Regions from separate parts of the Homo sapiens genome. Here region 2 is linked to region 1. Evidence: fine-mapped QTL for protein levels in blood plasma. A gene starts in region 1. The other region holds a variant in brackets. All regions are shown on one strand. Distances are from middle to middle. Region 1 holds the start of ANXA5 (annexin A5). Region 2 overlaps LOC105377402 (a long non-coding RNA gene).

Region 1 (2,918 bases):
TTTTAGAGTTTTTAAGCCCTGGTATCTTATTCACAAAAGACTGTATAACATGGTCAATATTTAAAGACCTTAAACTATCTTCTCTTTCCTACATTTTTGATAAACATTAATAACAGTAAAGAAACCAGGCGCAGTGGGATTACAGTCCTGAGGCCGAGGCGGGAGGATCACTTGAGGCAAGGAGTTTGAGACCAGCCTGGCCAACATGGTGAAACCCCGCCTCTACTAAAAATACAAAATTAGCTGGGCATGGTGGGGCGCCTGTAATCCCAGCTACTTGGAAAGCTGAGACACGAGAATTGCTTGAACCCGGGAGGCAGAGGTTGTAGTGAGCGAGATCACTACGTCACTGGACTCCAGCCTGGGCGACAGAGTGAGACTCCGTCTCAAAAAAAAAGGAAAAAAAAAAAACAGTAAAGAAAGCCTGTAGTAGATTATCAATTTCTGAAACAGTCCCAAGGCAAATTCAATTGAGAACTCGTTCCACGAGTTCATTGCTTAAGAAAAACAGCGCTTGTGTTTAATCTTTTGGATTAAAAAAAAAATCAGAGCCTACGTCCTACAGTTTTAGTAAAACTGGGCTGAGCAACTGGAAAAAGCCAATGCTCAATCACAGTATTAAAATACAGAAAACTTTGCGGAAAAAAAATAAAGGAAGTCGGGGGGCGGGGTGGGGGGGGAATGCGTTCGCCTCACATGACCACGATGAGCTGTTCTTGCTCCGGTTCTAATTTGAGCTACTCTCTGGATTTTGGGGAAGGCCCACTTTTACACATTCACTCATGAAAAGGGAGCGCACACAAATCCGGCCACGTCACCAGCTGTTGCGCGCGAAGGCAGCTTGGCGGCGTCGGTGCTGGTTCCGGAGGGCGCTCAGCGGGAAGAACCGGGACACAGAAACGGGGGCAGGGAAGCAAAGGGGGAACAAGAAAAGTGGAAGCGATGTCCCCAAAGCAGGTTCCCTTTCCTCCTAAACTTTTTGGCTCTCAGACAAATCCTAAAAGTCCCTCGTCGCAGCATACAAAGTTGTGGGTAAATCCAGCGCAGTGGGGGGCGCACGGCCTTACCTGTGCCATGGCGACTACTCAGGTCAGGGGAAGGTGAAGCAGGACTGCAAAAGAGAAGAAACCTCGGGCTTAGCGCGCCATTTGCAACTCGTGCCCTCCCCAAGCGCAGGTCCGCGGGGACCCGGCGGCGCTCAGACAGCCCGGAGGGCCCCGCCACGGGGCCGACCCGCCCTCTCGCAGCTACCGGGACAGCTCTCGGCCGAGCGTCCGCGCGAATCCAGTGCCCCGCGACCACGCTCTCCTCTCCAGAAGGAGCCCCCTCCCCGGGCTGCGACCACTCACCCAGACTGTGGGACCCAAGTGCCCCGAAACCCCGGGAGAGCGGCGGAGAGCCGGGCGACGGTACGCGGGGCGACGCCGAGATGCAGACGCTGAAGGATCCGGCAGCTGCACCTAGACTGATCCAAGCAACGGAAACGCCAGCGGCCCCACCCCGGCCCTGCCCGGCTTGGCCCGTCCCACCCCCGCCAGGGCCCCAACCGCAGGCCGGCCGCGCCAGCCGGGCCCGCCCCTGCCCCGGCCTCAGCGCGCCTGCGTGGGTCGCGGCTCGTCCCAGTTGGTCTCCCGCGGCGCGGACTGTCCCGCTGGTCTCGCGGGCCTGGGTGGGGAGCGGCCGCAGAGCTGCTGGAACCAGGAGGAGGCGCCGCTCCCCCGAGGGCCCCGGAGACCTCTTGTCCTCGCGCCGCGGGAAGGGCCTGGGGAGCTGTCCAGGGCTCGGGGTTTTGGAGGTGCTTGAGCCTCCCTGCCCTCTGTGACCGCAGGAACCGTAGCCTCACTTGGGTGCTCAACATAGTGCGTGGGCGTCTTTTTGGAGGCGAGACAAAATCATCGCAGCTAAGGACAGCGCGCCTTTGTCGATGGGATAGAAAAAACGTGAAAGGAGGGCCGTTTCCCAAGTTGTTTTTGTTTCTGTTTTGTTTTGTTGTTTTGTTGTTGTTTTAATGCCTATTATTGCTTCCTAGATGGCCCTCTCTTAAATGTACAGCCTTCTAGTAGCGTATGTGGGCTATTTGAAAACCTCTGCTTCCAATCAGTTTCTGTTTTCAAAACTAGCCTAGAACTTTAATATGACTTAAATTTGAGCAATGCCTCATATTGGTTCAACATAAAATATATGAGTATATGAGAGAGAGGGGGAGGGAGGGAGAATCTACAGCGTATTGTACTAGCATGGTGCTGTGTTCTGTGAAAGGGCTTTATATGCAAAGCAGCCCCCAAACGCGAAGGAGTCAAGAAACCAAAGAACGAGACAGACAAATCCAGTCTGTAGGTAATAGGGGTGCTATTGGAGGATGTGGTAGACAGAAGCGTGGCCTTGGGCGGCGGCAAGCAGATAAATTTCTGCACTGTTACTCCCCAGACCCTGGCCTTATATACCGTAAGGAAAGAGTATACTGCTCTGTGCAAGACAATTAAAGGCAGCCCTCCGGAACAGGTGAGAATGCCGTATGCTTCATAGCCTACAATGTGGGCAATAGCATCAAGGTTGACATGTTCTTATGCTAAGGACAGTTTAAAAAAAAAATCCTAGGAATCAGGAGGTATTCATGGGACTGGGGTTATTAAAGGTCAACATGGCGGATTAGCATCCGGGATATAATCACTTTTGTCTCCATATGCTGGAAAAGGAAAAGTAGAAGACACAGGGACCTTCTCAGACTTACTGGTGTGGGGAGGGAAGGTGCCAGGGCAGAGGGGGCAAGAGGACAAGTTTGCGACACTAGATGCAGTGTTCTAGACATATGCTAGAATGGGAAGGGCAAAGTGCTTCTCAACGTGGAGGTTAAGGGTAAGAGATGAGGATCTAGTCTTCTTTGAGAATGAGGAAGAATAAATTAAATGGACAGCAAA
Region 2 (2,918 bases), 49 kb before region 1:
ATCACCCAAGCTTTTTATCATCCCCTTCCCCCCTTATCTGGATATCGTCATATCTGCACATGATTCCTGGAACACCTAGAGGCATCTTAAAGCCACAAGGAGAGACTCGCCAACAGGCTGTGGTTAGAGAGAACAGCTAGACAAAAGGTACCTGAGTCTCTGATTGAGCTACTGAATTAGCCAACTCTGGGACCTCTGGGCTTCTTGTTACTTGAGATAATGAAGGTCCATATTATTTAAGCCAGATGTAATTGTGTTTTTGTTTACTTTGGGGTTAAATAAAACCAAGTGATATATCCAATATACTCACGATCAATTTCTTTTTTATACAAAGTACCTGAGTTTATTTCTGCTACTTGCTACCAAAGACTATAAACCAGTAGATTGTGGAACTGTGTGTTCCAGGTTTTACCAGGCTGCATGAACAAATGAGGTCACCTTTACATTAGTACTCCAAACACTGATGCTCTCACCCCACACCTGCTTGAGTAGCAGAAAATTCCATGTTTTATTTATATGTTTCTCCTTAAAGGTTTTCAAAAATCTCATGGAAATTCTTAGACTTGCTAAAGATTTACTAGTTACTTGTTTGTTTTTCATTATAATTTTATCAAATAAGCATGTGTTACTAAAATTATTATTTTAATTTTGTCTCTTCTTTAAAGTTTATATAAATTAAATCATAATATATGTATTTTATATCTTGATTCTTTTTTCACTCAACAATGTATATGCAAGATTTATTCACATTATTTGGTGGAGCTGGAGTTTATTTCATTGCTGAATATTCCATTAAATGATATGTAATAATTTAATTTATCCATTCTACTCTAGATATAGACATGGGTTATATCCAATATTTTTCTTGAATATTTTCTGTCCATGGTAGAATTACACTGTCTTTAAAACTGTATATTCTATTTTCATCACTTAACATTTTAGCATAAGCGTTTTTGTGTTGTTAAATTCTATTCCTAAAGATTATCTCTAACAGCTGTATAACACTTCATTATGTGTACATACTATAATTTATTTAACCATTTCCCTAGGGTTTTCATTTAGATTGTCTTCAATTATTTGTTACTATGAATAATGTTATAGTGAACATTTTTTACACAGATTTATATCTGCATTTCAAAGCATTTCCTTAGGTCATTTCCAAAAACTAGAATTACCATGTCAAGCAGTATAAATATTTTAAATCAAATTTCCCTGCAGAAGGGTTGGACTCATTTATTCTTTCATGAGGAAGAAATGAGAGTGCCTATTTCACCTCATCCTTACAAGCACTAAATATGCTTGCATGTTGTTCCCTCTCTCTCCTCCCCTCTCTCATCTCCTTCAAGGGTTTTGATACAAACCTTGATCACTACTTGGTCAGGTACCAAAAAAGGACTTTTTATGTATAAGAAATTCTAGATGAATTAGACCTTCAAAAAGAAAAAGCATTCAACAATAATAAATAAAAATATCCCTGGATTTTTAAAGAGAAAAATAGAAGAGGAAGGAGAATAAAACTGTGGCCGAAACTAACTAGACGCTCACCAAACACACGTTCTCTTCTAAGCACACAACAAAATTACATTAACTAGTCTCCCTTACATTTGTGTCTATAACAGAGTTCTAGCTAATGGAAAATGGGGAGAAGTGGTGCATGCCAA[C/A]AAAACTTCCCATACATCACCCTACTTTCTCCATCTATAGGCTAAATGGAGAAAATTCTAAGGACATAGAGGACAGAGCCATAAAAAGAAAGGAGACTTAGTCCCTAAATGATTACATGAAATTCCCTAAATGATCACATAAAATTCCTCCCATCCAGAAATACTCACACTGAAATGAGTGAGGAATAGATTTGATAAGGTTAAGTGTCTGAGAATTCTGGATTTAGATATTAACAGCAGCTGGAATTGTTTATCTTAACTATCACAAAATATTTATTGAATAATTACTATATTCTAGGTGCTTTGTTAGATGTGTTACTTATGTTTCCCTGTTTAATCATTATAGCAATTTTATGCAGAAGTTCTTATTAGTACCATCTTGAAAATAAGTGATTTTCCCAATTAAAGACAAGTGATTTGCCCAAGAGGGAAGAGTCAGAATTTAAATCTGAGTTCCTCTGATGGCAAAGGCCATGCTCATCACACTATCTCATGCTTGCTGTAAGTGTTTTATATACAGAGGCTGTATAAAACACATAGGGACTATGGTGCATTCATTCAACAATCAATCATTGAATGCACACAGGATCTTTTTTTTTTTACATATGTAATGGGGCCTACATCTTCTCATCTCTAACTTATATCTCTTATAAATATAGAAATTGAAACTTAGTCATTTATATTTAGCTAATGTCATAATAAATTTTTTCATATTTTAAATATCAAGGCCATGTATTTACATGTTTTGAGTAGAGGAAAGTGAGGTGGGGCCATAGAAGGGCAGTAGAGAGATTCCTTCTCGATGATTTTGGGCCTGCATCCCGTTTCCAAGTCCCATGAGGTGCCTGGAATGTGGCAAGGCCTTTGACGCAGTGGCTGATGGAAAGCAATAGGGGATGGGGAATGTTGTAGAGCTGCCTCTTAAGTGAACCACACAGCAAGTCACTACAGTGGACTGTTCAAATCACTATGGCATGTTTTAGGCTGCCTGTGCCTCAATAATAACCTACACAAATTTAGCAATCCTGTTCCTAAAGAGAAAATAATCTGTGAATACACACCTTAAAGCTCCAAATTTACAGAGCAATGTCTATCATCAAAAATTAATTTTAGGTATCTTCCTTTTAATTAGCTTCAGCTAATTAGCTGCTAAACTGTACACTACAGATGCTTCAAATTTGCCCCACAACACTAAGATGAAGACATTTCATGCTATTATCTCTTTTTAAAAATCACATCATGTCAGAATCTAAATTC

The links. A credible set is the group of variants that fine-mapping cannot tell apart. PIP is the chance, under the fine-mapping model, that this variant and not a neighbour inherited with it causes the effect. Protein levels are from antibody-based Olink assays in UK Biobank. Linkage for the fine-mapping came from a reference panel and not from the study's own genotypes, which makes the PIPs less certain.
Region 2: its variant is the best candidate, but not a certain one, in a credible set for the plasma level of the ANXA5 protein (UK Biobank, PIP 0.87).

What each region holds. Positions count from the first base shown.
Region 1 is chr4:121,695,514-121,698,431 of GRCh38, forward strand. It overlaps ANXA5 (annexin A5), which reads right to left and starts at 1,467. Exons shown (of 13, transcript NM_001154.4): 1 at 1,350-1,467; 2 at 1,068-1,111. The coding sequence starts at 1,076. RefSeq lists a silencer at 1,416-1,835.
Region 2 is chr4:121,646,164-121,649,081 of GRCh38, forward strand. All of the region lies in intron 2 of LOC105377402 (a long non-coding RNA gene), which reads right to left. Among named protein-coding and RNA genes, the nearest start is that of ANXA5, 49 kb to the right of the region's middle. The variant C/A (reference allele first, on the strand shown) is at 1,662.